Linked DNA regions of Homo sapiens: all the other regions are linked to region 5. Evidence: fine-mapped expression QTL. A gene starts in region 5. Each other region holds a variant in brackets. All regions are shown on one strand. Distances are between the middles of the regions. Region 1 overlaps ATP2C2 (ATPase secretory pathway Ca2+ transporting 2). Region 2 overlaps WFDC1 (WAP four-disulfide core domain 1). Region 3 overlaps ATP2C2 (ATPase secretory pathway Ca2+ transporting 2). Region 4 has its middle 28 kb from the start of ATP2C2. Region 5 holds the start of ATP2C2 (ATPase secretory pathway Ca2+ transporting 2).

Region 1 (5,131 bases), 30 kb before region 5:
TGGCGTGAACCCAGGAGGCGGAGCTTGCAGTGAGCAGAGATCGCGCCACCGCACTCCAGCTTGGGTGACAGAGTGAGACTCCATCTCAAAAAAAAAAAACAACAAAAAACTAAAAATACAACTATTATATGATCCCCAGTCCCACTCCTAGATACATAACCAAAAGAAAGGAAATCAGAATATTGAAGAGATATCTGCACTCCCATGTTTATCGCAGGAGTATTCACAATAGCCAAGGTTTGGAAGGAGCCTAAGTATCCATCAACAGACAAATGAATAAAGAAAATGTGGTACATATACACAATGGAGTACTATGCACCCATAAAAAAGAATGAGATCCTGTCATTTGCAACAACATGGATGGAACTGGAGGTCATTATATTAAGTCAAATAACATAGTGACCTCCAGACACAGAAAGGCAAACTTTGCAGGTTCTCGCTGATTAGTGGAAGCTAAAAATTAAAATAACTGAACTCATGGAGATAGTAGGATGGTTACCAGGGCCTGGAAAGGGTAGTTGGGAGAAAGTGGAGAGGGCTATGGGTACAAAAAATATAGTCAGAAAGAATAAATAAGACCTAGTATTTGCTGGCATGACAGGGCGACTGTTGTCAAAAATAATTTAATTGTACATTTTAAAATAACTCAAAGAGTGTAAGTGGATGACTTGTAACACAAAGGATAAATGCTTGAGGTAATGGAGACCCCGTTTGCCCTGATGTGATTATTATAGCGTATGCCTGTATCAAAGTATCTCTGGAACCCATAAATATGCACCTACTATGTACCCACAAAAATTAAAAATAAAAAAGAAACAGTAGCTAAAACAATTATATTGTGCCCAACTCCATTCAAGCTCTTTCTGTAAACAAATTCGTTAAATACAGCTAATTTATGAGTCAGTCATAATGGAAGGAAACTTTGTTGTTCTGGTCGCAACAAAAGTGTCCTTGTTTTTAAAAAGCCAATAACAAGAAAACTGTACTTGCTGGTAGAGGAAACGGGGAGAACAGAATTGATTTCTAGATTCTTTTGAATAGTGAAAGAAAATCTAGCTCATTTTCTAGCTAGGGATAATATGCAGGCAGAGAAGAAATACTTCCTCCCCCTCTCCAAATACTAATACACAGGACTTGAATTGAAACAGACTTGAGTTATTCTCAAGAAAAGACACTAGCTTCCAACTTCCTGAAATTGTAGTATGTGCCCTTTTCCTGGGGGCTTTTTATTTGCTTTCCCAAAATGTAGTGGTTCTGAGTATGCACGTGCACGCACGTGTGCACACACACACACTTGTGTGCAATGCAAATGTTTGTCTTGCACTGGCCAGGAATTAATTCAAACTCACTTGAGAAACTTGGGAGAATTTGGTTTTAGTACCTGGCAACTCCACGGATTATAAAAGACGACGGTGGGAATACCGGATGACCAAGAGTTTGGGCTTTCATGTGAAACAGCTGGACTCCACGCTGGGCTGTGCTACCTCTAACACTGGACTGTGCTACTTTCTGTGTCTCAACTTCATCTTCCATCCCTTTATGTTTTTGCCAAGAAATGTGAGGCTGAAGAGAAGCAGCGTACACAGAGTGTCTCAAAGGACGCCGTCTTCCGGTAAGGGCCTGGTGAAGACGAGCTCTACTGACAAGTACTGATATTCTACCTGTGGAATCTGAACCATTCAACATCAACAATATTTTCCAACCTTGATGATAAAATTGATAATAACACAGAATTTCAAAGCACTGTTCAGGGCTTTGTGTTGCTTTCTTTTAAACATAAAACCTTATCACAATTAGCTCCAGATGCAAATTCAATTCTTACACAAAACGCTCTGGCCAAATCCTCTTTCTGGCATTTGCACGCTTCCTTGGGGGGCAGGGCTGTCACCTTCTTCTCTTTCTCGATGGCTTTCAGCTCACTCTGTTCATCAATCTGTGAAAAGAGCAGGGTTGCTGTTTAGCGGATTGAACTTTTGTACTGATTAATTTTTAAATTTATTTTTTATTTTTATTAGTTTATTTTTTTGAGATGGAGTCTCACTCTGTCACCCAGGCTGGAGTGCAGTGTCATGATCTCAGCTCACCACAACCTCCACTTACCGGGTTCAAGAGATTCTTCTGTCTCAGCCTCCCGAGTAGCTGGGATTACAGGTACGCATCACCACACCCCACTAAATTTTTTTGGTATTTTTAGTAGAGACGAGGTTTCACCATGTTGGCCAGG[T/C]TGGTCTCAAACTCCTGACCTCAGGTGATCCGCTTGCCTCGGCCTCCCAAAGTGCTGGGATTAAAGGTGGAGCCACTGCGCCCGGCCACATGTGTTTTTTTTAAAGCATAAAACACACACACACAGTGTGCATATGTGTACAGCTCACAAACTAACCCTTATAACCAGCCCCCAAATTAAGAAACAGATATGACTGGTCCCCTGATGCTCCCTTGGCCAACCTACCTACCTGAGGGGTAACTGCTGTCATGGTTTCAATCCTCATAGATTAGGTTGGCCAGGGTTTGAACTTTATGGAAATGGTGCCATGCAGTATACACTCATACATGCTTTCTTGTCTGATTTCTTTCACTCAACATTGTTAGTGAGATTTATACAAGTGAGAATGCATGTAGCAACAGTACGCTAATTTTCACAGCAGCTTAGTATTCCACTGTATGAGTAGATCACATTGTATTTGTTCTCCTGTTGATGAATATCTGGGTTCCAGTTGTTAGTTGTTGGCTAATACTGATGCATCTATTTTTAAGCAAGTTTTTTTTTTTTTTTTTTGTCACCCAGGCTGGAGTGCAGTGGTGCAATCATAGCTCACTGCAGCCTCAACCTCCCAGGCTCAGGTGATCCTCCTGCTTCAGCCTCCTGAATAGCAGGACCACAGGTGCATGCTATTGTGCCTGGCTAATTTTTTAATATTTTGTAGGGACAGGGTCTCCCTATGTTGCCCAGGCTGAGCGAACTTATTTTACAGAATTGAAACTTGTAAGTGGACAGAGTAGGGCAACAATATACATATGTAGAATCCTGAACCTCGAACTTCCAGGATTCTCCATCAAGTATGCACCATATTGCAGAGAGTGCCTCCTACTGATGATAGGTGGTATCACAGCCTGGTTCTATGGGACATTTTAAATAACCAAAGAAAAGGGGAGGGGAAACACAACCAAGTTCTGGAAGTCCCAGCACTCTGTGTTGAGACCTGCGGGCCTGGAAAGAAGCCACGTGAAACACCTGGAGGCTTCGGGAGGCTTTGCTAATACAAAGGAGACCTCAGAAGCGGAAAAGTGTGAGGTATTTTTGCAAAACCATTCCTAGCATCCTGATACCCAGGATGTGATAATCATCTTTTCCTTTTCCACCAGGTTACTGGAAACTGGGAAAAAGGAAGCAGGAGAGGTATTGAGTAACTTCCTCCTTTAGCTGTAATAGAGATTGCAAATCCCACTCTTCCTTCTTGACAGCCGCCCTCCCCAACCCCAAACCATCTCCTCCCAAATGCCTATTTGCTTAGAAAAGCTGTGCTACCCACCTCGGTTTCATGCGGCTGCTTCTCACTCATGCCCAGTGCCCAGGAGCACAGCAGCGATTACGCAGATCTTTAAGCAGGCTTAGCCATCCATTGGGAGCCCTCCTTAAGTCAACATTGCATTCTTTGTAGAGTTACTTCAAAGAAAAATGTGGATTGCACAAGACTTTTCCCCCCATTCTCAAGATCTGCTCCCGTCGTACCAAATAAAGTGCTTGATTCTTGCGCACACCACAGGTGGAGGCAGGCTGGGCACTCCCCCCATCCCCCACACTCACTCAGCTGCCCTCAGCCTTGCCATTTGTGACTCACTACACCGAATTCACTTTTCCTTTTTTTTTTTTTTTTTTTTTTTGAGATAGAGCCTCACTCTGTCACCCAGGCTGGAGTGCAGTGGTGCGACCTCGGCTCACTACAACCTCCTCCTCCCGGGTTCAAGCGAGTCTCCTGCCTCACCCTCCCCAGTAGCTGGGACTACAGGCACGCACCGCCACGCCTCACTAATTTGTTTTTGTATTTTTAGTAGAGACGGGTTTTCACCAGGTTGGCCAGGCTGGTCTCAAATTTCTGACCTCAGGTGATCTGCCTGCCTCAGCCTCCAAAAGTGCTGAGATTACAGGCGTGAGCCACTGCACCTGGCTCGAAACACATAAATCCCATCTCACACACACACACACACACGCCCGATGCTTGAAAACACTTGCAGAGATTCCAGTGCTCTCAGGATAAGAGCCCAATTACCTTCAATGTGACTGCCCAAAACCCACACATGCTACAACATGGATGAACCTTGAAGATGTTATGCCTGGTGAAATAAGCCAGACCCGAAAGGACAAATCCTATAGGACTCCAGTTACAGGAGGTCCCTAAAATAGTCAAACTCACAGAGACAGAAAGGAGAGCAGAGGTAACCGGGCTGGGGAGTTAGTGTTTAATGACTACAGAGTCTCTTTGGGAAAGATGAGAGTTTTGGAGGCAAATATTGGTGATGGTTGCATAACAATGGGAATATACTTAATGCCAGAGAGCCATACCCTTAAAAATGGTTAAAATGGTGAATTTTATGTTATGTATATTTTACCACAATAAAAATCCAGAAGAAAAGGGCCAGACACAGTGGCTCATACCTATAATCCCAGCACTTTGGGAAGCTGAGGCAGGCAGATCATCTAAAGTCAGGAGTTCGAGACCAGCCTGGCCAACATGGTATTTTGTAAAAATACAAAAATTAGCCAGGCATGGTGGCAGGCATCTGTAATCTCAGCGACTCTGGAGGCTGAGTCAGGGAGAATTGCTTGAACCTGGAAGGCGGAGGTTGCAATGAGCCAGAGTCAGGGAGAATTGCTTGAACCTGGAAGGCGGAGGTTGCAATGAGCCAAGATCATGCCACTGCACTCCAGCCTGGGCAACAGAGTGAGACTCTGTCTCAAAAAAAAAAAAAAGATCAAAGGCACCAATTCCCCTGCCTTTGAGGGCAGGACTAGCATGTGCCCCCAACCTTTGTCACGTGCTCTGGACATCTGAAGGCCCAGGGCTGTCCACCCACATGTCCCTGGGGAATGAGCTAGGTGGATTGAGGAAGTCATGGGGTGACAGGGTGCCAT
Region 2 (5,131 bases), 42 kb after region 5:
TTACTAAATCCACAGTGCTGGAACAAGAATTTAAACCCAGACCTAGCTTGCTCCAAAGGCTGTACTTTTTTTTTTTCTTGAAACAGGGTCTCACTCTGTCACCCAGGCTGGAGTGCAATGGTGCAAACATGGCTCACTGCAGCCTTAACCTCCCTAGGCTCAGGTGATCCTCCCACCACAGCCTCCCAAGTAGCTGGGACCACAGGTGCACACCACCATGCCTGGGTAGTTTTGTATTTTTTTTTGTAGAGATAGGGTTTCACCATGTTGGCCAGGCCAGGCTGGGCTTGAACTCCTGGGATTATACCATATGCCTGCTTCGGTCTCCCAAAATGTTGAGATTACAGGCGGGAGCTGCTGCGCCCACCCAAAAGCCTCAACTTCCAAACTGCCATCCTCAACTGCCTCCCAAGGTCTCGTCCTCATCCACTGGCCTCCTTCTTCCCTGTTAGAAGCTCAGTCCTCAGCTGCATCTGACCTACTCCAGGGACGGCTCCTGTCATCAGCAGGTAACAGACGTGCTGGCATCAGTCCCTACGGGCTCCAGATTTTCCGGGAGGATTCTGGAACCTGCAATCTGACATTTGCGTTTCAGCGACGTCCTGGGAGGCTGTCACCTGCTTTTAGGGGCTCCTTTTTGCCCTCTGTGGCTATCCAGCATTCACAGGGGCTGGGTAGATTTTCAGGTTTAGGGCTGCAACTCCACAGCCCTTTGCATGCACCTACGCCTCACCTTTGAGGGCACGTGAGGGCAAGCCTGTGCCTCACCTGCGGCCTCCTCTGGAGTCAGCCTCCCTGCCACCTTCCTGCGTCTACCCCAGGGGCCTTCTTTGGCTCCCCAAAGCCAGCGTCCCTCCTGCCTCAGTACTTTCACTCTTCCAACTCCCTCCACCTGGGCGCCTATCCTCCAGACCCTCCCCAAGCAGCACCTTCTCACCTTGGATCTTGGCTCAGACTTCAACCCCCACAGGGCCTTCCCTGACCCCAAACGAAGCAGCCCCTGCCCCAGGCTCTGCTCCTGCCCAGGGACTCTGCCCCACATTGCCTGTTCACTTCTTCACCACACCTGTCTTTGTATTGATTGATCTGTTGGCTTGTGTAGCCGTCCCCTACCAGGATGTGGCCTCCCTGAGGGCAGCGGCTCTGTGGGATTTGTTCACTATACCACCCTGGCATGAACTACCGCTGAGCAACCAAGAGGCTGGAACCATGACTATCAGATAGTTGGCACCCAACAGAATTGTTTGACAGAAATGAGAAGAGATAGACAAGACTTCCTGGAGACATCAAGGCAAAGGAATGAAAAGGAAAGTTGCGACCTAGTCTGGTCTTGGATTTTTGATTCAGAGGGATACAGAATTGCTTCTGCTTCTGATCACACACAAAGTTCTCCTACGTTCCTGCCTTGAAATTGCAGTAGGTCCTCATTTAACATCATGGATAGCTTATTGGAAACTGCAACTTTAAGCAAAATGACCTACTATATAACAAAAACAATTTTACCATAGGCTAATGGATATAAACAAGAGTTAAGGCCAGGCACAGTGACTCATGCCTGCAATCCCAGCACTTTGGGAGGCCAAAGTGGGAGGACTGCTTGAGGCCAGGAGTTCAAGACCAGCCTGAGTAACATAGTGAGAACTCATCTCTACAAAAAATACAAAAAAAAAATTAGCCAGGTGAGGTGGTGTATGTCTGTAGTCCCAGCTACTGAGACTAAAGCTGAGGCAGGAGGATGGCTTGAGCCTAGGAGTCTGAGGCTGCAGTGAACAATGATTGTGCCAGTGCACTCCAGCCTGGGTGACAGAGTGAGACCCCATCTCTTAAAAAAACAAACAAATGAGTTAAGCTTCTATGGCATACAGTGCATATAGTATGTCGTTGCATTTAAAGTCAGTTTCCAAGAACCTATTGATGACGTTAGGTGAGGACTTACTGCAGAAGGGAATTTCAAATTCTACCAGTAGGGAAAGCGCTACTCTCACCCTCCTGCTCCTCAACCTGGTGGTGAAAGCTGCCAGGACACTGGCTGCCCACATTTACCCTGGCCATGACTCTTGCTCTCTGCCCACTCACCTGCTTGCCGTTGCTTTACTGAAAGTGCTTCTGTTGTCCCCTTCCAGGTTCTGCCACATTCTTTGAGTCACCTTCTGTGAAAAGAACACAGCTCTGTTGGGGTAGATGTATCTATTCCTGCTCTAATGCCCCCCGTGGCTCACCAGGAACTGCCAAATGAAGCCTGGTGACCTGGCCCTCTCCTCCCTCCCCCAGCTGAGGTCACTCAGTCCCCACCTGCAGTGCCTCCTCTCCCTCCCCAGGCCCCCCAGCTGGTGTCACCAGCTCTGTCTATGTTTCTGGTCTTACCTCCCACCACCTCCACAGCTCACCACACACTCCAGCTTTGGGGATGGCCAAATTGCTTCCGACCTCAAGAGCTTCACACATGCCATTCTGCTGCCCACTATTTCTTATTCTTTAGGCTGAGCTTTCATGTCTCCTCCTTAGGAAGCCTTTTCTCACAACCTGGACTAAGGTGTCCTCATAGTATCCAGCATGTGATGTCAGGAAGGCTTGTCACTATT[C/A]TCATAAAATAACCACTTGGGCTATATTCATGTCTGAATTTTCTGCTTGATATTAGCTGCATGACAGCAGCGACTGGGTCTGTCATGTTCACAAATGTAGCTCCAACCCCCAGCACAGACTGATGAGTAATACTTAGAAAATATGTGCTGTAAATTATTGATAAAGACATATCAGATGGATGGGAGAATGGATGGATGGATGGGTGAATGGATAAATGATGGATGGATGGATGGGTGAATGGGTGAATGGATAAATGATGGATGGATGGATGCATGGATATATGGGTGGGTGGATAGATGGATAGATGGGTAGATGAATGGATGGATGGATGGATGGATGGATAGATGGGTGGGTGGATGGACGGATGGATATATGGATGGATGGATAGATGGATGGATAGTGGCTGGCTGGATGGCTGAATAGATAGATGGATATATGGGTGGATGGATGAATGGATACATAGGTGAATGGATGGATGGGTAGATGGGTGGATGGGTGGATGGATGGATGTATGAATGGATGAAAGAAGAGATAGATGAATGAATGCAAGGATATGTGCATGAATGGATGAATGGGCAGATGGATGGATGGTTGGGTGAATGGATGTACGGGCAAATAGATGAGTGGATATAAGGATGGTTGGATGGAGGGATAAAGGAATAGAAGGGTGGATAAAATAATAGATGGGTAGATGAAAAGATAGATGAATATATAGATGGATAGATGGAAGAATGAACAGATGGATGAATAGATCGATGGAGGAATGGATGGATGGATGCATGCTTGAAAAAATGGATGGATGAAAGATTAGATGAATATATGAATGGATGAATGAGTGAATGGATAGATGAATGGGTGGGTGGATGGATGGTGGGTGGATGCATAGATGGGTGGGTGGATGGATGAGTGGATGGATGGATAAATGGATAGACAGATGGGTGGATGGGGCCAGGCACAGTGGCTCATGCCTGTAAATCTAGCACTTTGGGAGGCCGAGGCGGGCAGATCACCTGAGGTCAGGAGTTTAAGACCAGCCTGGCCAACAAGGTGAAACCTCGTCTCTACTAAAAATACAAAAATTATCCAGGTATGGTGGCGGACACCTGTAATCCCAGCTATTTGGGAGGCTGACGCAGGAGAACTGCTTGAACCCAGGAGGCAGAGTTTGCAGTGAGCCAAGATTACTCCAGTGCACCCCAGCCTAGGCAACAGAGTGAGACTCCATCTCAAAAAAAAAAAAAAGGTAGATGGGTGGATAGATGGATAAGTGAAAGGATGTATGTATGAATGGATGGATGGATAGATGAATGGATGATTGGTGAATAGGTAAGTAAATGAAAGGATGGATGGATGGAGGGATGAAGGAATAAAGGGGTGGATAAAAGGATAGATGGGTGGGTGAAAAGATAGATGAATATGTGGATGGATGGATGAATGGGTGGATGGATGGAAGAATGAATAGATGGATGAATAGATTGATAGAGGAATGAATGGATGAAAAAACAGGAAGATGAATGAAAGAATAGATGGATATATGAATGGATGAATGAGAGGATGGATGGATGAATCGGTGGATGGATGGATGGATGGTGGGTAGATGGATGGGTGGGTAGATGGATGGAGGGATGAATGGATGGATGAAATAATAGATGGAGAGATGGATGGATCAATGGATGATTAGATGGATGAATGGAAGAGTGGTATCAGGCGTGTTTTCCAATTCTCTGAATGAAAGTAGCAGAGGCTTAAATATGAGCAGTTCCAGGCTCTGCTCTTCAGCATGAGGTCATGTTTGCCATGAGCTCCTCTGTGACTCACAACTCCCTGCCCACCATCAGACCACAGGTCTTCTATTTTGTTTCTTAATCCCAGGTCCCATTTTGTTCCCTATATCTCAGCCCTGGGCTTTTATTTTTTTCTTCACATAAGAAACTTTCACTGCCTTTTTTTTGTGCCCTCTGGAAAGAAAGAACAGTTTCTTCTTTTACCTGGATATTCTTTGTAAAGTTTGTGTCGTAGGATTCGCCCATCTGGAAAACAAGTGAGAGGAAAAAACTTCTTTTAGGAGTTTAGAAGGCCAAAACTGTTGTCATAATAACACTGAGGAATTACTTGTGTTTTTCAGTCTCCCCATCTCACTAGTGTACAATGGAATTGTTCAGAGGCTACATGAGCATTTGTAATGTCTCAGCTCTAGTTTCTAATATGATAATATCCAGAGCCATCAACCCATAAAGGAAAGCCCTGTGAGATCTCCTTAACATCTTTCAGGGTACAGCGGTCTTGAGAGCAAAAAGTTTCAGAACCACTGTCTTTTTTTTTTTTCTTTTAGACGAAGTCTCACTCTGTTGCCCAGGCTGGAGTGCAGTGGCATGATCTCAGCTCACTGTAACCTCTGCCTCCTGGGTTCAAGTGATTCTCCTGCCTCAGCCTCCCGAGTAGCTGGGATTACAGGCATGCGCCACCACACCCAGTCAATTTTGTATTTTGAGTAGAGATGGGGTATCGCCATGTTGGTCAGGCTGGCCTCGAACTCCTGACCTCAGGT
Region 3 (5,125 bases), 88 kb before region 5:
CCCCTCCCCCGACCCCACCACAGTCCCCAGAGTGTGATATTCCCCTTCCTGTGTCCATGTGATCTCATTGTTCAATTCCCACCTATGAGTGAGAATATGTGGTGTTTGGTTTTTTGTTCTTGCAATAGTTTACTGAGAATGATGGTTTCCAATTTCATCCATGTCCCTACAAAGGACATGAACTCATCATTTTTTATGGCTGCATAGTATTCCATGGTGTATATGTGCCACATTTTCTTAATCCAGTCTATCATTGTTGGACATTTGGGTTGGTTCCAAGTCTTTGCTATTGTGAATAGTGCCGCAATAAACATACGTGTGCATGTGTCTTTATAGCAGCATGATTTATAGTCCTTTGGGTATATACCCAGTAATGGGATGGCTGGGTCAAATGGTATTTCTAGTTCTAGATCCCTGAGGAATCGCCACACTGACTTCCACAATGGTTGAACTAGTTTACAGTCCCACCAACAGTGTAAAAGTGTTCCTATTTCTCCACATCCTCTCCAGCACCTGTTGTTTCCTGACTTTTTAATGATTGCCATTCTAACTGGTGTGAGATGATATCTCATAGTGGTTTTGATTTGCATTTCTCTGATGGCCAGTGATGATGAGCATTTTTTCATGTGTTTTTTGGCTGCATAAATGTCTTCTTTTGAGAAGTGTCTGTTCATGTCCTTCGCCCACTTTTTGATGGGGTTGTTTGTTTTTTTCTTGTAAATTTGTTTGAGTTCATTGTAGATTCTGGATATTAGCCCTTTGTCAGATGAGTAGGTTGTGAAAATTTTCTCCCATGTTGTAGGTTGCCTGTTCACTCTGATGGTAGTTTCTTTTGCTGTGCAGAAGCTCTTTAGTTTAATTAGATCCCATTTGTCAATTTTGGCTTTTGTTGCCATTGCTTTTGGTGTTTTGGACATGAAGTCCTTGCCCATGCCTATGTCCTGAATGGTAATGCCTAGGTTTTCTTCTAGGGTTTTTATGGTTTTAGGTCTAACGTTTAAATCTTTAATCCATCTTGAATTGATTTTTGTATAAGGTGTAAGGAAGGGATCCAGTTTCAGCTTTCTACATATGGCTAGCCAGTTTTCCCAGCACCATTTATTAAATAGGGAATCCTTTCCCCATTGCTTGTTTTTCTCAGGTTTGTCAAAGATCAGATAGTTGTAGATATGCGGCATTATTTCTGAGGGCTCTGTTCTGTTCCATTGATCTATATCTCTGTTTTGGTACCAGTACCATGCTGTTTTGGTTACTGTAGCCTTGTAGTATAGTTTGAAGTCAGGTAGTGTGATGCCTCCAGCTTTGTTCTTTTGGCTTAGGATTGACTTGGCGATGCGGGCTCTTTTTTGCTTCCATATGAACTTTAAAGTAGTTTTTTCCAATTCTGTGAAGAAAGTCATTGGTAGCTTGATGGGGATGGCATTGAATCTGTAAATTACCTTGGGCAGTATGGCCATTTTCACGATATTGATTCTTCCTACCCATGAGCATGGAATGTTCTTCCATTTGTTTGTGTCCTCTTTTATTTCCTTGAGCAGTGGTTTGTAGTTCTCCTTGAAGAGGTCCTTCACATCCCTTGTAAGTTGGATTCCTAGGTATTTTATTCTCTTTGAAGCAATTGTGAATGGGAGTTCACTCATGATTTGGCTCTCTGTTTGTCTGTTGTTGGTGTATAAGAATGCTTGTGATTTTTGTACATTGATTTTGTATCCTGAGACTTTGCTGAAGTTGCTTATCAGCTTAAGGAGATTTTGGGCTGAGACCATGGGGTTTTCTAGATAAACAATCATGTCGTCTGCAAACAGGGACAATTTGACTTCCTCTTTTCCTAATTGAATACCCTTTATTTCCTTCTCCTGCCTGATTGCCCTGGCCAGAACTTCCAACACTATGTTGAATAGGAGCGGTGAGAGAGGGCATCCCTGTCTTGTGCCAGTTTTCAAAGGGAATGCTTCCAGTTTTTGCCCATTCAGTATGATATTGGCTGTGGACACATACACTCTCCCAAGACTAAACCAGGAAGAAGTTGAATCTCTGAATAGACCAATAACAGGCTCTGAAATTGTGACAATAATCAATAGTTTACCAACCAAAAAGAGTCCAGGACCAGATGGATTCACAGCCGAATTCTACCAGAGGTACAAGGAGGAACTGGTACCATTCCTTCTGAAACTATTCCAATCAATAGAAAAAGAGGGAATCCTCCCTAACTCATTTTATGAGGCCAGCATCATTCTGATACCAAAGCCGGGCAGAGACACAACCAAAAAAGAGAATTTTAGACCAATATCCTTGATGAACATTGATGCAAAAATCCTCAATAAAATACTGGCAAACCGAATCCAGCAGCACATCAAAAAGCTTATCCACCATGATCAAGTGGGCTTCATCCCTGGGATGCAAGGCTGGTTCAATATACGCAAATCAATAAATGTAATCCAGCATATAAACAGAGCCAAAGACAAAAACCACATGATTATCTCAATAGATGCAGAAAAAGCCTTTGACAAAATTCAACAACCCTTCATGCTAAAAACTCTCAATAAATTAGGTATTGATGGGACGTATTTCAAAATAATAAGAGCTATCTATGACTTTTTTTTTTTTTTCTAAGTGTGTTAAGGCTTCCTATGGCGAATCAACTGTGGAGACACCTTTGTAAAGTGCACGATCCACCTAGCCTCAATATTTGTTTATTTGGATTTTTTGTATCAGGCTTAAAAAGTTTTCCCTCACCCCCAACTAACCACTGCGATTAGCTTATGAGGAGAGTCTCAGAACTAATTAAAATTAGGAAGGTAAATGTATTAAGAAAAAAATACAGAAAAGTGAAACAGAACAAATAGTTTTGTGCAAGCCCCAGAACCTAGAGAGCACCTCCGTGGTCAGCGATGGGGGTGTTTCTGCCCAGGTCTCTTTGCAATGCCTGAGATATATGTATCAACACGCAGGCCTCAAACGGAAGATGTTCATTTTAATCCTTTCTCACCCCACACTCAAGTGTGAGCACGTATTTGGCCACAGGTTTTCCTTACA[T/G]ATTCAGCTGCTGCCCACCAGCCTGAGCCAGGCGGGCATTCCCAGTACCACATGAAATGCACCCACAGGCAGCAAATCCCATCTCTGCTTCATATCCGTAACATTCCCCTGGGGGCAGCATGTGACTAGCCCCAGGCATCATGGACCCCATGACCCTGCTATGAGAGGCTGTTGGTACTTGGGGTTGGGGGCACCTGCCACACTGACGAGCCCCGAGATTCAGCTCTCCCTGGGGACTCCGCGAGACCCCCCCCTCTATCTCCACAGTAGCAGGTTCCAGGGAGAAGCTGGTGACCCCAGGCATTTTTGCAACTGAAAAACAACCAGAAGGGCAGCTTACATGATGGCTGAGAAGTCATCATCCACCAGGATCATGTTGGCGGCCTCTTTGCTGACGTCCGTCCCTGTCTGCCCCATGGCGATCCCAATGTCTGCAGACTTCAGGGCCACTGCGTCGTTCACCCCATCCCCAGTCATGGCCACGATCGCCCCTGACTCCTGCAGAGCCTTTGGAAAGAGCAGGCAATGAAGGCCTGCAGCCTGACGACCACCTCCCAGTGCCCGGCCATGCACACCCTGTGGCCAGCCACAGACACCTCTGTCTGGAGGGCACCCGGAATTCGAATCCCAGCTTCACCCACATTAGCTGTGGGAATTGGGCGAGCCCTTGACCCTCTTGACCTCAGTTTCCCTATCTGCAAAGTGGGAGCAACAGTTTCTTCTTCCCAGGGCTGTTGTGAGGCCCAAACTGAGATGACGGATGTGACGGTGCCCAGCACGGTCAGTAAAGGCTCATAAAGGTTATCCAGTCCCAGTAATAAACAGTAATCAACAGTGCGGCCCTGGAAACCATGGGGTACCTGGTAAGTATTACTACCTTCTTTGAGGAGTAACTCACATAGGGATTTACTCTGTAGAGCTAAAAATAACATGAAAGAAGAAAGCCCGTCTACTAAAAGAGCTCAAGAGCAAACTTTCAGAGCACAGGCGAGAAAACCAAGCACATTTTCTACCTTTTTTTGGTATTCAGAGTCAGAAAAATCACATCAGCTCTTTATTGGGCTCCTGCTGTGTGCCAAGAGATTCATGGGCCTGGCTTTGTTTAATTCTCTACCAACCCTGTGAATCAGCTGACGGCATTAATAGTTCCCCCATTTTACAGATGAGGAAACGGAGGCACGGAGTTGAGTAAAAGGAATAAAGCCAAAAAGCACCCAGCACTTTGGGAGGCGAAGATAGGCGGATCACCTGAGGTCAGGAGTTTGAGACCAGCCTGGCCAACATGGCGAAACCCTGCCTCTACTAAAATTACAAACATTAGCCGGGTGTGCTGGTGCACACCGCAATCCCAGCTACTTGGGGAGACTGAGGCAGGAGAATCGCTTAACCCTGGGAGGCAGAGGTTGAAGTAAGCCGAGATTGTGCCACTGCACTGCAGCCTAGGTGACAGAGCAAGACTCCGTACCTACAACCCCACCCCCAGAAAAAAAAAAGATAGCTTCTCTTTTAGTTTTTCCCTCTACGTTATCCAATTACAGCTCCCAGTTTTCACTGTATGTAGCAAAGGTCCCCCAGTTCTCCCATCTTCTTTAAAATTATCCCCAGGTTTGGTGGGGCTCGTGTCCGCCCAGCTACAGATGACACTTCCCAGCATCCCCTGCAGCTAAACCTGGGCCCGTGACTGTGTTCTGGCCAAGGGGCTGTCAGCGCAAGTGTTGCTGGCAACTTCAGAGCCTCGTCCTCTCCAAGGGAGCTGCCCACGCGCCCCTGCTCAACCTCCTCCCCTCCCCCTGGCTATGAAAAGGTAACTCCCGGGGCAGCTGCCCTGGACCTAGAGAAGGAAGCCACGGTCGGGCCCTGCACTGTCACCCGACGGACGCATGAGCTCCTCGAGCCACAGTGTCTCTGGCCCGGCCCCAGCAGCGCAGCCTGTGCCTGCCTTGCCCAGCGAACCTTGATGATTTTGAGCTTGTGCTTTGGGCTGGTCCTGAAGAACACGGACACCTGGACACGGAGACGGGGAAGACGAAGAATCAGATTTCAAAGCTGTGACCCAGCCCCACTGCCAGCCAAGCCTCCGGGGACCCAC
Region 4 (5,107 bases), 27 kb after region 5:
TTCAGCATCTCCACATTATTTTCAGGGGTGAGAAAAAAGAAATGGCTTGGAGTCTGAGCTTCCTGGGATGTGCAGAATTCATCAGGCTCGGAAAGACGAGAGTGTGGGACCTCAGTCATGCCGTCACCCCCAGGCCTAGGGGTAGTTAAAGGCATTTTGTTCCTGACTTGCTGCCTCACCCGCTATCTTCATGTTCTGGGAATTTGTGACACAAAGAACAATGCCTAGCCAAGCAATAGTTTCTATTATTTTCATATAAATTCTTGGTAAACAGCTTGGGAACTGCCTTTCCTTTTTTCCTTTAAAAACCTACTTGTAACTGCTGCTGAGTGGACTTTATATTCAGAGCAGCTTGAGTCCATACTCTCAGGTTGAAATCCTCAAGCTTGGCCCAAATAAACTCTCTACTTAATTTAACTAAGTAATTAAGTCATTTTTTCCTCCGTTGTTTTTTTTTTTTCCTTTAGGTCAACAGGGTCAAGTTCAAACTCAGCGTGTGAACCGGCTGGCACCTGCTTAGCTTTCTAGCCCCACATCCTCTCACTCTTGGGTGCCCCCTTTCCCTGGCCATGCCCACCTGCTTGGAGGTCCTTGAACTTCTCTTCTCCATGCCTTTTTCAATGTTCTTCCCTCTGCCTGGAATGCCTTTACCCCTCTTCCCTCTCCTGACCTAGCCGCTTGCTCCCTGCTGGGGGTTCAATGACGTCTCCCCAGAATGCCCATGTCCTAACCCCCAGAACCTGCGGATGTGACCTCATTTGGAAATAGGGACTTTGCAGATGGGATGAAGTTAAAGGTCTCAAGAGGAGATTATCCTGGACTTAAGAGGGCCCTAAATCCAATGACAGGTGTCCTTCAAAGAGAAATCAGAGGGAAATCTGGGACACGGAGACAGAGGCAAAGGCCACGGGAAGACGCTGCAGAGATGGGAGAGGCACATCCTCAAGGCCGGGAGTACTGAAGTGGCCGGCTGCCATCGGAAGCCGGGAGAGAGGCGCCGGGCAGATTCTCCCTCGAAGCCCGGAGAGAGGCACGGGTTGGATTCTCCCTTAGAGCCTCCGGAATGACCCAGCCGTGTCAACACCTTGGTTTTGGCTTTCTGGCCTCCAGAACAGTGTGAATGCATGACTGTTGTTTCAAACCACTTGGTGTGTGGGCATTTGTTAACAGCAGCCACAGAAACTCATACTCAGAAACTTTGCTCAAACGTTGCCTCCTCTGGGAAGGCCGCCCTGACTCCTCATCTCGACTGGAGGCCCAGATCCCAGTATGACCCTCTCCTACCTCTTACCTCGGTGGCCATGATCAGCGACGCACCTGTGTGGCTTCACTCCAGAACGTAAACTGAAGGGCGGGATTCCCTAACGGCTTAGATTACAGCAGCCTCTCCCAGAGAAGTCCACAGTCTAACAGGCCTCGCAGCTGTCAACAAAAGATGGTTCTGTAATGGTGGAACTTCAGGCAGCTCACAGGGGCCTGCAGGAAGGATGTTTTGGGGGCTGGGCTCCTTTTCACTCAGGCTCCTACTCCAGGTGTCTGCACGGGAAGAACCTCTGTGGGGGCTGTAAGATCAGGTTTGTCCTGAAAGACAGTCACCTGAAATGAACCCACCTGCCTTCTCTTTGGACCAACTTACTGATATCTGTGAGAATGTTCTAGAAAAAAGGCTCAGGGTGCGAGCTTATACTGGCAACTCAGATGGAAAGCAACCTGGGAGGGAATGTGGCCACATCCGAATAACCAAAGTCCAAAGGGATTATTATTATTATTATTATTATTATTTTTCTGAGACAGGGTCTTGCTTTGGCATCCAGGCTGGAGTGCAGTGGCACAATCATGGCTCACTGCAGCCTCGACCTCCTGGGCTCAAGCGATCCTCTCACCTCAGCCTCCTGTGCTGGGACCTGAAGTTGTGCACCACCATGCCTGATTTTTTTTTCTTTTTTTTAAGAGACAGAGTCTCACTTTGTTGCCCAGGCTGGCCTTGAACTCCTGGGCTCAAGCAATCCTCCCACCTCATTCTCCCAAAGTGCTGGGATTATAGGCATGAGCCATCATGCCCGGCCCAAAGGGATGATTTAGTTAAGTTTGCCCTTACGGAAAAAGCTGCTTTCAGGGTCCTTGGATGGCGGGAGGTGCTTTGTCTCCAGCAGGCCTGGAGGGGCCCACAGGCTTGCCCACTAGTTTCCAGCGTCCCGGTGCCCCGTCTTGCAGTGGGGACCCAAAGCACCCAGGGGCCCATCCCGCAGCCATGCTTTGAGACCCTGTTTGCTGTCAGGAGGGACAGAGTCCTCTCAGCCTCTGGCCACCCCTGCTCCCTGTGGCTGTGGAACCGTCCCCAGGTGGTTAGAGAGGTGGCCGCAACTGAGAAATTGCTTCCTCAATACAGGAGAACTTGTGCTGCAAGAGAGAAAACTCCAGACAGGG[G/A]TTCAGAGAAGTGGGGCTGGCCTCCTTCTGTTCCTGGAAGAGTGGGAGAACGGGAGGTGGGGCTCTGATGTCCCAACAACCTGCCCCGCCAGTTTCCAGCTGTGAGGCCGTGGGGAGATTGCCACATACTCCCGTCTTCCTCATATTCCATCCACACGTGGGTAATAAAACCACCTAGTGAGGAGGAGGTGACAGTGCAGTCAGGATCTTTTGATGGTGATGGTTGCTCATGCAGCAAGATCACAGAGCTACACACACGTGCAAAGACACACACACACGCACGCACACACACACCCGTGCAGAGTGGGACACAGATGAGTATGCTCCATGGAGATTGCCAGCGTCACCTTCCCGGTTTTGATGTCATGTCGTAACCGTGTGAGATGTTACCATGGGGGAGGAGGGGTGGAGGGACCAGGACCTCCCTGTATATTTCTTTGCATGTCTTGTAAATTTATCAGAATTTCAAAGCAAGAAGTTTTTTTAAAAAAATTCTTTAAAGAAAAAAATCCAGCCAAATGACCTTAGTATAAAATACAATTTGACTTTGACAATTAATGGCAATAAAAGGGAACAAATTTGTTCTTCTTTCAGAGCCAAGTCTTGAACCCCATCAGCCCAGGGCCACAGCCCCTCGCCACTCCTTCACACGGCTCATCACGTGGCCCCATCTGCCCCGACTGGTTCCCGCTGGGTTTCTGTCATCGTCACCAAAGTGCAGTGGTCATCCAGCCTCTCAGCGCCTTTGAGTCCCTGGCTGGGGTCTTCAGTGACCCTTCTGTGTTTCTTTGCCTCCCAGCCTTGTAAGTTTCCTGACCGTTTTCACACCCTCATCTCATCTGGTCCTATGGAAGGCACGGCAGATGTTACCCCCCGTTTCAAAGCAGTGGAAACTGAGGATCAGGGTGGCTAAGCTCTTTGTCCAGGGATACGCAGCTAAGGACCAGTAGGGCCACCATGGAACTCAGCTCCAGTCCAGAGCACTCCAACAACCTGAGGCAGCCGGGTGTCTGCTCAGATTTCAGCTCAGGAGAGAGACACTGTCATCTGTCTCCAAAACAGTCAGGTCCAAGGGAGGATCTCAAGGGGAAACTGTACTAGGTTCAAAGCCAAAAACATACAGCTGCTTCCCAGACCAGACGGGCCAGGCACACACCATCTGCCTGCGATCACTGATCCATCTGTGTCTCTCCTCCCGTGCAGGGAGGAAGCAGGAAAGGCCAGGGAGGAGGGAAGGGAGGCTCTTTAGCCATCCCAGGGGCAGCATGATGAAGGGGAGAGCCCCTGGGAATCAGCAGGCCATGGTTCAAATCCCTGCTTCTCCATGTACTGTGTCCCACTAGACTATAGGCAGCAGGGGCGGTTTCTAGGCTGTTCCAGGCTGGAACAGCGACAGGCAGCAGACACCACAACTCATGTGCAACTTTATACACAATTAAAAGAAAAAGCACAACTAACCAGTCTGATATTATAATGCTTTCACCTTAAAAAATATTAGAGTTAATTTTTTTAATTTAAACTTTTTGTGGGTACATGTGGAAACAAAATGAGTTCACTGTAGGGGTATGGATTTGTTTCCGGGTTCTCTATTCTGTTCCATTGGTCTATGTGTCTATTTTTATGCTAGTACCACGTTGTTTTGGTTACTATGGCTCTGTAGTATGATATGAAGTCAGGTAAAGTGATTCTTCCAGTTTTTTTCTTTTTGCTCAGGATAGCTTTGGCTATTCTAGGTCTTTTGTGGTTCCATATAATTTTAGGATTTTTTTTTATTTCTATGAAGAATGTCATCGGTATTTTGATAGGGATTGCATAAATCTGTAGATTGCTTTGGATACTTTGGACATTTTAACATTGACTCTTCCAATCCACGAACGTGGAATATCTTTCTCTTTTTGGTGGGTCCATTTCCATTTCTTGCATCAGTGATTTAAAGTTTTCATTGCCGAGCTCTTTCACTTCTTTGGTTAATTCCTAGGTTTTTTTTGTTTGTTTGTTTGTTTGTTTTTGAGATGGAGTCTCGCTCTGTCCCCCAGGCTGGAGTGCAGTGGCGCGATCTCAGCTTACTGCAACCTCTGCCTCCCAGGTTCAAGCAATTCTTCTGCCTCAGCCTCCTGAGTAGCTGGGATTACAGGCATGCACCACCACGTCCGGCTAATTTTTGTATTTTTAGTAGAGACAGCGTTTCACCATGTTGGCTAGGCTGGTCTTGAACTCCTGACCTCATGATCCACCCACCCCGGCCTCCCAAAGTGCTGGGATTAGAGGTGTGAGCCACTGCGCCTGGCCTATTCCTAGGTATTTAATTTTAGCTATTGTAAGCGGGATTACTTTCCTGATTTCTTTTTCAGATTGTTCATTTTGGTGTATAGAAATACTATGGATTTTAGGCCAGGCACCGTGGCTCACGCCTCTACTCCTAGCACTTTGGGAGGCCGAGGCAGGCGGATTGCCTGAGTTCAGGAGTTCGCGACCAGTCTGGGCAACATGGTGAAACACTGTCTCTACTAAAATACAAAAAATATATATATATATTAGCCGGGTGTGGCAGCGTGTGCTTGTAGTCCCAGTTACTCAGGAGGCTGAGGCAGGAGAATTGCTTGAACCTGGAGGCGGAGGTTGCAGTGAGCCCAGATCATGCCACCGCACTCCAGCCTGGCGACACAGCGAGACTCCGTCT
Region 5 (5,000 bases):
CTCACACTTCCCATCGATCTTCATTGCCATTTCCTGGGTTTGCACATTTCCTGGGTTTGCACAAGGCTGCCTCTGGAGACAGCATGGCTTCTTTCTCAGCTGGCCTTTGGTGTCAGTGCTGGTATCACCCGCCTCCTGGCGCTGCACACTGCCCATCATCACGCACCCAGGGCCTCAGGATGCTGCTGAGAGCACCCCGGTCCACAGCCAGGTGGGAGAGCACACTGACAGACCGGCTGAACACCTGTCAGACCTCTGAGAACTCTCCTGCAAAGCTTTGGAGGGACGAGTCCACCTGGCACAGAGATCAAACTCTCCCAGCATCTCCCTTGAGGTTACATCATCCATGCACCTGCATTCCTGGACATCCTGTGAAACCTGATGGTAACCAACTACACACCAGGAGAGTTTGAAAAATACCTGGCCTGATGCAAGAATCAAAAGATGGAAAGGAAAAAACAGGAATGGCAACATAGGAAAGGCAACCTGTGATGGCAAATAAACTTCAAACTCCTTTAGCAGAATGTATCGCAGAAGCAGAGAAATGGATCACAGCCAATTAATTGAACTCTATATCCTATCAATATTAACATGCCACTTCAGAAAAATCGAGATTGCTCAAAAACTGCTAGTTACGTGGTCCTGTGGCCTACCACCCTAAGACCAGAATTCTTACATCAACAGGGATGTATAAAACACTATTTTTAAAAAAGCACAAAACACTATTTTTAAAAAAGCACGAATACTTAATCTCACAAACAAAATGTTTTGACCATTAGTATTCTTTGGGAGAAAAAAATAAAATTTTAAGTCAAATATTTTTTCAGCTAATTTCTTTTTTTAATTAAAAGGTAAGTTTACCTTTGAAGTTTCCTTTCACTGGTCAAAAGGCCATCGCCAAGTCATATTTCTAATTAGCAACCCAGGGGACTCGTTCAGAAATGTTACTTTTGAACGACTGCTTAAGCGTAAATGAAAAAAAAAAAAGTGCAACGACCCTCTGGCGTGCAGAGAAACGCTTCTGCAGAAATTCAGTGCCCCCCTGACCTTAAAGCATGCAACGAGTTCTGTTTGCGAAGCTAAAAAGAAGGGTGTTGGGTCACCCTCAAGCCTGGCTTCACCCCTGGCTTCCAAGAATCCAAGGAACAGGAGGGGCTTTATTTGACAGCTTTGCCACTTCGTTCCCTCATGAACCGCCCTGCCCTGGCACCCTGCTGCTTTATCCCAGAGGGTCCCTGAAGGTTGCAAAGCAGGCATACAGCTCTGAGTGACTTTCTAAAAGTACCTGACTGTAGGAAGTGAGGCTGGGAGGTCCCTCAGCTCCAACTTTGCTTTCTATTATTGCTACAACATTTCAGCAATCTTTTGTTTTTTGCATCCCTCTAATTTTATTTTCCAATTTAAGTTTTAAAAATCCATAAAGCAGCCCAAGTCTGGAGACCCAGGAATTTTAATTCTCTGGAGTCAGAGAAACCTAGGTTAAGTTCCCAGCCAGGTCACTTCCTAGCTCCGTGCCCCTTAGGGAATATACTTAACCACTCTCGGCCTCAGTTTCTCAACCACAAAATGGGTTCACGTGAGGGTTCCATGCTGAGCTCCCCGCGCCAGAGCGCAGATGAGAGCGCGGTTGCTGTGAGGACAGCTTCTTTCCAGAGCCAGGGGAGGAGGGCGAGTTCGCGGATCGCAGCGCGAACGCGGGGTCTCGGGCCGGGGACGGTTACGACGGAGGGGATGGGGGGTCGGGTCGCACGCCCGGCGCGGAGTCGCGGGGACTCACCAAGGCTTCCTCTTCGTCCTTCTCCAGCGCCTGGTACTGGCGGCCCCCGCCCGAGAAGCCGAGTTTCTTCAGGAACTCGGAGACGCGTCCCTCGACCATGGTGAGCGGGCGCAGGCGTTGCCTGCGTCCCTAGGTCCCCGGCGAGGCCCGGGATGGCTGCGCGCGCCCAAGCCTCCTGGGCCGGACCCGGTTACCAGGTAGCTGTCTACCTGCCCGCGGCAGGTGAGGCCCCGCCCCTGGGGCGGGGCTGCGCACAGGGAGGTGCCGGCTCACCCGGCCCCGCCCCGCGAGCTCGCCTGGGACCCCAGGGGCTCTGGGGACAGCGCCGGCTGGCCATGAAAGGCCCAGGGAGAGGCTGCGTCGCCTCAGGGCTTGGGCTGTTTCCCAAACTTACAGATCCTAAGAATCACCTGGAGTGGGGGAGGTGGAGGAGCAAATGCTGGTTTAAAATCCGGATTCCCAGACCCCTCCCTGCCCAGTCACGGTTTGGAGCCGCCGGGAGCTGGGTTTTTAACGAGCCCCAGGTGATCCTCTTGAGGAACCCAGGGTGGGCGGCTCTAAGGCGCCGGGAGCGAGGTGGCTGGAGCTCAGTCAGACTCACACCTGCGGCTGTGCACTCTGGACGGGTCACGTGGCCTTTCTGAGCCTCGGCAACCTAGCCTGTCATTGAGCGGGGAGCAGCAGAAGGCTAAGACCCCCACCTCCAGGGCCCTGGGAGTGAGTCCAGGAACAGGAGCGACTGAGAGCCCTGCTGCCTTTGGCGCCTGCATGGTCTCGGATGGTCAGGGCCCCTGTCCTCGTCTGCAGGATGAGCGCCGCTCTTGCTCGTCGTGGGACCTGAGCAGGTTTCTTATATTTTTAGCGCCTTGGTTTACTGCTCTGCAGAATGGCCACCACGATAGCGCCTCCTTCACAGTGACATGGAGAGGCCCCAGCGGACAGTGCTGTACAGGAAGGTCTCGAGCAGGGCTTGGAGTAGAGAATGTGCTGGTGTCCCCATGACACCATCCTCCTCCTCTTCATCATCAGAAGGTGCTGGGCTCAAATGGCTCCCAAAGTATGTGAGTCCATACGCAGTGTAGACAGTTGCCAGCAGCCAAGTGGGTGCTTTGAAGTTCCAGGGCTTTCTTTGGCTTCAGGTAGGACTAGATCCGTAACTAGACCCACCACTTAGCAGAGGGGGAGCTCTGGGGAAGTCCGTGCCACCCGCCTTTCCGCTGGCTTCCTCATCTCTACAGGGAAGTTACTCACGGGCTACAGGAGGTGCCCTCTGCATTTGTCCACGAAATTCAGCCACCCCTTTTGAGCAAATATTTGCCACCTACCTCAATTGCTCCCGAGGGTTGACTCCAGGCCACGAAAACCTGCAGGGCAGTTCCAGTGCCCCTTCTTGTATCTCCTGCATCTTCCTCTTTCAAGGAAACAAAGGCTACGGTATCAGCCTGGCCCCACTCCCCAGTTTCAACAAAGGTGCAGGAATAATGGTAACAGCAAACCTCTGATGTGAGTGAGTCCAGATTTGAATCCCAGGAATGTTCCTTTCCGACCTTGGGCAATTTTCTTCACCTCTCTCCACCTCAGTTTACTCATCCATAAAATGGGGATGTCACTACCTACCCGTAGGAGTCAGGGTCCCAGTAGGAAATAGTAATTTGAGGAGAGTTTGAGAAACAGACTTTTTACAAAGCTGTGGGGAAGACGTAGAGAAACCAGAAGTGCTTGTGTCATTAACGAAGACTAGCAAAGAGTGAGAAGTGGCTTTGGTCCCACCCAAGGCCTGAAGGGCCAGACGAGAGAGGAGTTACCTGGAGGGGGAGCTCTGGGGCACTGATAACTTCTGCAGAGGGCAACTGCTTAGATCAAAAGCCAGAAAGCAACAGAGCGCCAAGGATGCAGCCTCCTGGGCAGAGAATCCAAAGAAGGGTGGAGAGTGGTGTAGAGGAGGCTGGGCAAGGTGGCTCACACCTCTAATCCCAGCACTTTGAGAGGCCAAGGTGGGCGGATCACCTGAGGTCAGGAGTTCGAGTCCAGCCTGGCCAACATGGGGAAACCCTGTCACTAGTAAAAATAGAAAAATTAGCCAGGTGTGCTGGCATGCGCCTGTAATCCCAGCTACTTCGGAGGCTGAGGCAGGAGAATCGCTTGAACCCGGAAGGTGGAGGTTGCAGGGAGCCAAGATTGTGCCACTGCACTCCAGCCTGGGCAGTAGAGCAAGACTTCATGTCAAACAAACAAAAAAAAAAGAGTGTTGTAGAGGAACAAGGAGGAGACATCCCGCAGCCAACCTCAGCATCCTGTGGTTCAGGCTGAGTGAATGCTTGCACAGGTATGATGTAGTAGTACGATGTCGTGGTACCCGACATTGCAGGCTCTCAGGCGCTTCTATATTATTAATATAAAAGAACATATGGGAACTTGGCTCAGTTATTTCTCAGGTCCTTCCCAAGTGGCATTCTGTGATTTTAAAATGATGTTGGATCCAGGGAAGAAGAACGCCTTGTTGGCATCTTCATGTTTTTCCAAGCTGTTAACCAGATGTCATCTCTCCAGGCAGATCAGCATCCCCGGAGCAGAGGATTTGAAAGCCCAGCCTTTCGGATCCTATCACCATGGCTTCCGCTCCAGCCCAGAGATGTCAAGGCTGGAATTCCTGGGCTAGGTTCGAAAATGCCCAGGGCATTCCAGAAGGAAACTCTAGGTGGTGGATATATGCATGTACATTTTAGAGACAAGGTCTCACTCTGTAGTCCAGGCTGGAGGGCACTGGCGCGATCATAGTTCACTGTAGGCTTGAACTCCTGGGTTCAAGCAATACTCCCTCCTGAGTAGCTGGGACTACAGGTGCACAGAACCACACCCAGCTAATTTTCTAATTTTTATTTTTATGTAGAGATGGGGTCTTTGCTCTGTTGCCCAGGCCTATAAATTAGATTTGTGGTGTGTAAAATTAGGTAAATTAGGCTCCACCAGTGTTGGTTATGGTAAATGATGTGCCTGAAACATGGCAAATACTCCAAAAAATTTTTGAATATGTCTCCCATAAACAGCAGATCATTCAAATTTATATTTAACAGAACTTTCATATGAACGATTTGCTTTATAATAGGGAAATGTAGGCCGGGCGCAGTGGCTCATGCCTGTAATCCCAGCACTTTGGGAGGCTGAGGCAGGCGGATCATGAGGTCAGGAGATTGACACCATCCTGGCAAACACGGTGAAACCT

Evidence for each region. PIP is the estimated chance that this variant, and not a neighbour inherited with it, causes the effect.
Region 1: its variant is the best candidate, but not a certain one, in a credible set for the expression of ATP2C2 in whole blood (TOPMed, PIP 0.82).
Region 2: its variant is the best candidate, but not a certain one, in a credible set for the expression of ATP2C2 in testis (GTEx, PIP 0.67).
Region 3: its variant is the best candidate, but not a certain one, in a credible set for the expression of ATP2C2 in fibroblasts (GTEx, PIP 0.85).
Region 4: its variant is the best candidate, but not a certain one, in a credible set for the expression of ATP2C2 in sun-exposed skin (GTEx, PIP 0.83).

Annotation. Positions count from the first base shown.
Region 1 is chr16:84,395,301-84,400,431 of GRCh38, reverse strand. It overlaps ATP2C2 (ATPase secretory pathway Ca2+ transporting 2), which reads right to left. Exons shown (of 27, transcript NM_014861.4): 2 at 1,823-1,933. Among named protein-coding and RNA genes, the nearest start is that of ATP2C2, 29 kb to the right of the region's middle. The variant T/C (reference allele first, on the strand shown) is at 2,225.
Region 2 is chr16:84,323,901-84,329,031 of GRCh38, reverse strand. It overlaps WFDC1 (WAP four-disulfide core domain 1), which reads right to left. Exons shown (of 7, transcript NM_021197.4): 5 at 4,572-4,613; 6 at 2,077-2,150. The coding sequence ends at 2,092. Among named protein-coding and RNA genes, the nearest start is that of WFDC1, 32 kb to the right of the region's middle. The variant C/A (reference allele first, on the strand shown) is at 2,583.
Region 3 is chr16:84,453,236-84,458,360 of GRCh38, reverse strand. It overlaps ATP2C2 (ATPase secretory pathway Ca2+ transporting 2), which reads right to left. Exons shown (of 27, transcript NM_014861.4): 20 at 4,990-5,040; 21 at 3,377-3,543. Among named protein-coding and RNA genes, the nearest start is that of ATP2C2-AS1, 12 kb to the left of the region's middle. The variant T/G (reference allele first, on the strand shown) is at 3,037.
Region 4 is chr16:84,337,956-84,343,062 of GRCh38, reverse strand. No RefSeq gene overlaps it. Among named protein-coding and RNA genes, the nearest start is that of ATP2C2, 28 kb to the left of the region's middle. The variant G/A (reference allele first, on the strand shown) is at 2,428.
Region 5 is chr16:84,365,492-84,370,491 of GRCh38, reverse strand. It overlaps ATP2C2 (ATPase secretory pathway Ca2+ transporting 2), which reads right to left and starts at 1,954. Exons shown (of 27, transcript NM_014861.4): 1 at 1,778-1,954. The coding sequence starts at 1,876.